Linked DNA regions of Homo sapiens. The protein of the gene in region 1 purifies or fractionates together with the protein of each later gene. This does not show direct contact. Each region holds a gene or a part of one and is shown on either strand. Other genes may lie near its edges. The genes, in order: DPP7 and CEP78.

Region 1 (4,306 bases):
AAAAAAAACAAACAAACTAACGGGGTCATAGGGCCCAGGCCAGGACTCACCCCGCCCCCTGCCCAGGGGTCCAGGTTCCCGTTGGAGAAGATGATGTTGCTGGCGGCTCTGAGATCTGCAAGGGGCAGAGAAAGTTGTGATGTGGGCCCCTCACGGGGGCTGTGAGCCATGGGCAGGGGGTGCAGAGCTCGGGGCAGAAAGCAGGACGCTGGCCCACCCCCCCTCAGCCTTACCACCCCCCCAGAAGCTGGTCAGCAGCCAGTCGGGCCGGGGCCACACGCCCCAGGTGTCCAGGCAGTACCGCTGGCGGAGCTCGTCAGTGAAGGGCAGGTCCGGGAACATATCGGTCACATTGTTGCTGGCGAAGGTCAGGTTGATCTCGGTGCAGGCCTGCAGGTGCCCCAGCCTGAGTCAGGCCAGCCCACGCCCACCCTTGCCCCCGAGTGGTTCCAGGCCACCCACACCCCCACACCTGGTAGTCCCAGGCCCTGGCGTCGGGGCCGGTGCCGCAGCCAGTGGGGTCAGCACAGCTGTGGTAGAGCCGGTAGATGTCGTAGCAGTGCTCGGAGCCCGAGGCGTTGTAGACCAGCCCTGGGGAGGAGAGGCGCTGGGGCCCAGCGGCCACACACAGACACACCGCGGGCTCCGGCCACCAACCTGTCCCCCCTCGGAATGGTCCTGCAGGGGATCTGGGGCTCTGGGATCTGTAGGTCCCAGTGAGGAAGGCCCTCCAGGCTACCTGCTTGGAGGTCGGCGGTGTCTGTGCTGCCAGCCCCGGGCCTGACTGTTGAGGGCCCCCCCGCTCTCCACGGGGCAGGGTGGGGCCTGCTGCCCTCTGTTGCCCTCCATGCTGGGGACCCCAGGGGCCCCTTGGGCAGCACCCACCAAGCTGGGCCTGGCTACAGCCAGTGCTGAGAGGGTCCCCAGGGACGGCCCCTGCCTCCCCCAGGGTTTCTGGGAAGGTCGTGCTGTCCACCCCACCACAGCCCTGGGGCAGGAGGCAAAGCCCCTGGCCGGGCTGCGGATCCTCGCCCCACCCGGCCCCAGGACCCAAGCCAAGCCTGGGGTCTCCACACTTGCCCATCTGGGGCCGGGGGAAGGGCACCTGCCAGTGCTCGCAGCCCCGTGATCCTCTGGGCCTCACTCAGCAGCCGATCACAGCCCACCTGGAGTGCAGGGGCAGCGGCGACTCAGCGGGGTCCCCTCCACCAGCTCCGCCTCCCTGGCTCCCAGGATGAGGGTCAGGCCGCTGACCACCAGCCTCGGGACACTCCAGCCGGCCTCTCCCTGCGCCCTGGGAGGCGGCGCCTCACCTTGACGGGGTTGGCAGGGAGGGGACCCAGGAAGTCAGTGGGGTAGGGGTAGTCCATCATGGCCAGCACGGTGAAGGCATTCCGGGCGAACATGAAGAGCTGGGTCAGGTCCTTCTCGTCTGACAGCGGCTGGCAGGTGCCGAACTCCCAGCGGACCGTGTCGTAGGCTGCGTGGAAGGGGCAGAGACTTGAAGTTTGGGCATAGCTGGCGCTGGGGCGGGTCAGGCAGTGGGAGGCGGTGGGAGGACCTCACCTCCCTGTAGGAACAAGTCCTTGATCTGTCGGAACGCTTCCCGCACACCCTGGGTGCATTTGGGACTCTGGCCCTCAAAGTCCTGGGGGAAAGAGACCGTGCTGACTGCAGCTGCTGTCCCTTAGGGGGCCTGGAGGACCCCAAGCCTCACTCACCGCCGTGACGTCCCGGAAGAACTGGTTGGAGTCGCCGAGGCCTGCCACAGCTAGAACGGGCGCGCTGGCCGCCAGCGCCCCCGCCACCAGGTGGGGATACTTCATCCTCAGGTAGGCACTGAGCATCCCCCCATAACTGGGTGAGGGACACAGGGTTAGGGCTGCTGCCCCCAACACCCCATTTCCTCTTTTCCTCCTCAGGGGCCCACAGGTGCCACAAGGAGGACGACACTTCTGAGACCCACAAATTCCAACCCTGGGCCAGGTGCGGGTGCAGCTCTCACTGGGAAAGGCCGCTAGTGTGGCCGCACATCCAAGCTGAGCAGGTGGCTGGGAGGACAGGTGGGAGGGCTTCCTGGGGGAGGCAACACTAAGCCTGGAACCACTGCCTGAGGCCTTACGAAAAGGCAGCGGTGGGAGTCAGAGGGGAGTGGGGAGAAGGGCTGGGGGCGCTGGGTCGGGGCAGGGGAGGGAGGGGGTGCGGAGGCCGGGGGAGGCGCCCACCTTCCACCGAAGGCGATGGCGGGGGCATCCTGGGCCCCGAGGTCGCGTCGTAGCGCGCGGAGCAGCTCTGCGAAGTCGGCCAGGGCCTGCTCCACCGTCAGCAGCTCCGTGTGCCCGCGCTGCGTGGACTGCGCACCGAACGGCAGCGACTTCCCGTAGTAGCGCTGGGGGAACGTGCCATTGAGCCCGGCCCCGCGACCCCGCCCGGCACCCGCGTGCCCCGCGACCCCCGCCCGCGACCCCGCCCGGCACCCGCGTGCCCCGCGACCCCCGCCCGCGACCCCGCCCGGCACCCGCGTGCCCCGCGACCCCCGCCCGCGACCCCGCCCGGCACCCACGTGCCCCGCGACCCCGCCCGCGACCCCGCCCGGCACCCACGTGCTCCGCGAAGACCAGTAGAGCCCCCCGCTCGGCCGCCAGCTCCGCGACGAAGGCCGAGTTGTTGGCGAAGGCCCACACGTCGCCCTCGTTCCCAGTGTAGAAGAAGATGGGCCCCTCGCCCCGGACCCAGAACCTGTCTGTGGGGAGGGCGGATGAGGCGAGGGTGCCGGGGGGCGGCGGGACGGCGGGGGCGGCCGGGCCGGGGCCGGGGTCTCACCCGACACCAGGAAGCGCTGAGGGAAGGTCTTGTTGCCGAAGCGCTCGAAGTTGAAGTGGTCCAGACGCTGCTGGAAGAAGCGCTCCTGGAAGCCGGGGTCCGGGGCCCTGCGGGCTGTGGGGGGACGCGAACCTCAGAGGCGGGGCCGGGACCGGGGAATGGGCCGGGGGGCGCCGCCACTCACCCCCCGCCTGGAGGCCGCGCAGCCCGAGCGCCAGCAGCAGGACCGGGGCCCAGGGAGCGGAGCCCATGTCGCCTTCCGCGGGCGCCCGTCACGTGGGCGGGGTCACGGGGCCGCCAGGGCGCGCTCCTCCCTCCAGGCCCCACGTGTTTCGGGCGCCCGCGGTCCCCACGGAGACCGTCGCTGCTTCAGCGCCGCGCCGGGGCTGTGCCCCCCAACACCCCGCGCCCCGCGGCCGCTGCCCAGGGGTCCTTCCCGGGCACGGCGCGGGGAAGCAGAGGGCCCCCGGGCCATCTCCGCGGCCTCCCGCCCCACTGGCTCGTCCTCCTACCGCGGCCCCATCCGGAGCTGCGCTAGGGCGAGTCCCTGCTGCGCCCGCCAAGCCTCCCCAGCACTTGCTCCTGGCAGGTGCCCCACTCCAAGGCAGGGCCGGGAGAGTGGGGGCCGTTCTGCTGCCCTAAGGGCGGGAGGGAGAGGGTCCCAAACAGAGTGCTGGCCCCCCGAAGAAAGCAACCCAGGGTTTGTCCAAGCGATAACGGGCTGGGCTTGGCGGGGCGGGGCCTCGCAGCGGGCAGGAGTGTGGGGTGCCCCTGGAGCGTCTGGGCAGGGCCGGGATGTGGCCGGGTAGCTCCCAAGAGCTGGGAATCGCCACCTGCCCTTCCGACTGGCACCCAGTGTGCCCACACAGCCCTGCAGGGACAAGGGGGGACCAGAGGCCTCTGCTGGGAGCTGGGGCCTCCTCCCTGGGGAGCACCCAGAGGATGGAAGAAGTCACCTTTCCCCAGCGTCCAGTTCAGGGAGTGGGTGAGGGGGCCGTAGTGGTGGGTGCCAGACTAGCTACGTGGAGTCCTGCTGGGGATGTACATGGGCCGCTAGCCAGGCCCAGAACAGGTGCAGGGGCAGCAGGGGCTCAGCTACAGAGAGTTACCCTGTCCTTCTCCCAAGACTACCCTCGGCCAGCATGACCCTGCCCTGCCCATCCTGTGTGGGGCTGAGCGGAGAAGACCGGCCACTTCCACAGCCCCTCACGCCATGGCCCTCCCGTGCCTCACACAGAGGCACCCCCCATGGTGGGTGACTGGTGGCTGGGGCCCTCAGCATGGTGGCAGTGACCATCACGTCACACTGCAACACGAGGTCATCCAGGGCCACACACCGTCCCCACCACGGCCCTCACATCTGGGCCCTGTCCCATCCCTACGCAGTTCCTGGGGCTGCCTGCCGGGGCCCCCGCAGGACGGGGGTGAGGACAAACAGCAGACCTCCTTGGATGTGGAGGTACCCCACGGCGTCCCCCACCCC
Region 2 (3,369 bases), about 59 Mb from region 1:
TTTTCAGAATCAGTGGATCGACTGCTGCACACACACTAGAATGGCTAACATTTTGAAATGCTGATAAATATGCAGAGCAACTGGAGTTCCTCACAGCTGGTAGGAATGCAAAATGACTCAGTCACTCAAAACAGTTTGGCAGATTCTTTAAATGCTAACATACACATACCATATGACCAAGCAGTCCCACTCCTGGGTATTTAGAGAGATGAAAACTTAGTTCACACAAAACCTGTGCGTGGATATTTATAGCAGCTCCATTCATAGTGACCAAGATGTCTTCCAACAGGTGAATGGATAGCGATGTATCCATATGGTGGCAAACATGCCACAATTCGGATGAATCTCAACATCATATGCTGAGTGAAAAAGCCAGTCTCGGAAGGCTACATTCTGTATGATTCCATTTATATGGCATTCTTGAAAAGACAAAACTATAGTGACAGAACAGATTGGAGATTGCCAGGTGTTGGGGTTGGGAGGAGTTGATTACAAAGAGGCTGTACAAGGGAGTTTGTTTGTTTGTTTGTTTTGGTGATGAACAGTTCTGTATCCTGATTGCGGTGGTGGTAACGTGAGTCTATACATATGTTAAAATTTATAGAACTGCATACTCTCAAAAAAATTAGTTTTACTCTATAATAATATTAGAGCTTAAAAAATTCATCCCTCTTGCCCATCAGTAGATCAGGATATGAAGGATACCATTGAACATAAATATTTTGTATCCATGATGAATACAAAGTATATTCTCCTGGAAAACCAATAGAACATTCATATAAATGATTCCTATGAAGGTAAAAAACTTACAAAATTCAAAGATCATACAGATCATGTGCTCTGTATAATGTAATAATAGTAACAAAAGGCCTGTCCACTTGGAAATTTTTAAATGATCTTCTAAATAACTCATTTAAAGGAGAAATCAAAATAAATTGCAAATTATTTAGAATTAATAAAAACTTCTCTAAAGCTGAGGAATTCTACCAAAGAGGTGTTAGAGGAAATTGTATAGATTTTGATTTACTTTCCAGGAAGAAAGAAGACAAAAGAGATGAATTAAACATTTAAAGCTAAGAAAGAGATAAACCAAAAGAAAGGTGAGGAATTGGTAAAAGCAGAAATGAATAAAATAGCAAATTTTGATCAGTGAAACACAGGTTTTTAAAAATGAAAGATAAACCTTTGTAAAATATGATAAAGAAAAAAAAGCAAGAAGTAATTAACAAAAATTGCCAGCATTAGGAATAATTTTAGAAGGATACCTACAACTAGAAGAGATATTTTTAATTATGAGCACTTTTATAATTTACTATAAATAATTGTGTAGTGTTAAACCAATAAATTTGAAAGACTAGATGAAATGTGACTGTTTAAAAATATGGATTGTAAAAATTGATAAAAAATAGAAAATGTAAATAAACGAAACATCTTAGGAGAAATTGAAAAAATAGGACAAGAACTTATTTTTAAAAAGAGGCCAGGTGCGGTGGCCCATGCCTGTAATACCAGTACTTTGGGAGGCCGAGGTGGGCGGATCACCTGAGATGAGGAGTTCAAGACCAGCCTGGCCAACATGGTGAAACCCCGTCTCTACTAAAAATACAAAAATTAGCCGGGCTTGGTGGCGGGCACTTGTAATCCCAACTACTCAGGAGTCTGAGGCATGAGTGTCGCTTGAACCTGGGAGGCAGAGGTTGCAGTGAGCTGAGGTCACACCGTTGCACTCTAGCCTGGGAGACAAGAGGGAAACTCTGTCTCCAAAAAAAAAAAAAAAAAAATACAGTTAGAAAAACTTTAAAGGGGCCAGGTGTGGTGGCTCATGTCTGTAATCCCAGCACTTTGGGACACCAAAGTGGGAACATTGCTGAGACCAGCAGTTTGAGACCAGCCTGGGCAAGACCTCATCTCTACAAAAATTAAAAAACAAAACAAAACAAAAAAACCCAAAACTTAGCCAGGCATGGTGGTGCGTGCATGTAGTCCCAGCCACTCAGGAGGCTGAAGTGGGAGGATCGCTTGAGGCCGGGATTCGAGGCTGCAGTGAGCTGTGATCATGCCACCACTGCTCTCTAGCCTGGGCAAGAGTGAGACTCCGACTCAAGAAGAGAAAAAGAAAAACCTTCCAGGGGCACATTTATTTGTAAACCATTCCAGAGGATAGAAAAGAGATGTAAGGCTCCCTAATTCATTCCATACGGTTAGCGTAATCCTTATAGCAAACTGCACAAATAAAACACAAGGAAAACTAAACCAAATTCAATTAATGTAGGTGCAAAAAATCCAAAATAAAACTAGCAGTTTGAATTCAGCATTGTAGCAAAAGATATATCATTTTCAAGGAAGATTTGTACCAAAACATGCAAGATTGAGTGAAGAGTAACTCACTGTAGCTCACTAAATTAACAGATTAAAGAAGTATAGTCATCTTCACAAGCTGAAAGAGTATGTGATAAATTCAACATCCTCTGGTATTCTTAACAATCTCGAAATAGAAGGAAACTTCCTTAGCTTAGCTTCTTGGCTTCATTAAATATACCTAACAGAAATCCACAGGAAACAAACTTGGTGAAAAGTTTTTGCTAAGATAAAAACGGTACTAAAAAGTACACATTTTGGGAAATGAGACAAGGCTCTCGTTATTTGTAAATATGGGGTCTTTTTTTTTTTGGACAAAAAACCCCCTGTGATGATCTACTGGCATGCTATTACAGCTAATAAAGCTGAATAAGGAGGCTGTGCACAACACCAACACACCGGTATGAAAAGTGTGTACACCAGCAATAACCAATTAGAAAATGTATGAGGAAATAGACTCTCATCCACAATAGCTGCGAGAAGTAAATATTATCTAGAAATAAGATTAACAAGAGAAATGTAAGGCCTATATAAATAAAAGGATAAATCTATGCTAGAGGGTATAAAAGAAACACAAAAATAGAGGTATGCCATGTATAAGACCCAACATAATAAATAGTTCTACCAAATTAATTTATAAATTCAAAGCAATTTCATATAACCACAGTAAAGCTTTTTAAATGGATGTAATAACCTGATTATAACATTAATCTGAAAGTCATCAGGCATAAAGCAATTTTGATTACATCTCAAAACAATCCATGGAGTTAGGGTAAATGTGCTGTTCACACAGGAATAATCACAGGTATAGAACCGAGAACCTAGGAACAGAGCAATGTATATATATATGTATTTAAAAAATGGCATCACAAGTCAGTAGAGAAGGGTTTGAACTATTCAGTAAATGATGTTGAGGTTATTTACTACTTTTTCTTATTTCATATCATGGATGAAAAAAATCAAGATGAATTAAACATGGAAATTAAAAATAACTAGAAGAAAATACTGGAA

What was found.
Region 2: the proteins of DPP7 (region 1) and CEP78 purify together in Homo sapiens (affinity purification with mass spectrometry, with the first as the bait; one large-scale study listed by BioGRID). This does not show direct contact.

What each region holds. Positions count from the first base shown.
Region 1 is NC_000009.12:137,111,640-137,115,945, forward strand, and holds the start of DPP7 (dipeptidyl peptidase 2 isoform 2 preproprotein), read right to left. Parts: upstream 3,095-4,306; 5' UTR 3,075-3,094; coding exon 3,008-3,074; coding exon of another isoform or gene 2,938-3,007; coding exon 2,824-2,937; intron 2,744-2,823; coding exon 2,604-2,743; intron 2,390-2,603; coding exon 2,226-2,389; intron 1,858-2,225; coding exon 1,722-1,857; intron 1,649-1,721; coding exon 1,567-1,648; intron 1,481-1,566; coding exon 1,314-1,480; intron 1,167-1,313; coding exon 1,106-1,166; intron 592-1,105; coding exon 473-591; intron 391-472; coding exon 234-390; intron 116-233; coding exon 51-115; intron 1-50.
Region 2 is NC_000009.12:78,273,845-78,277,213, forward strand, and holds part of CEP78 (centrosomal protein of 78 kDa), read left to right. Parts: 3' UTR 1-3,369. UniProt on the Homo sapiens protein: Centriole wall protein that localizes to mature centrioles and regulates centriole and cilia biogenesis. Involved in centrosome duplication: required for efficient PLK4 centrosomal localization and PLK4-induced overduplication of centrioles.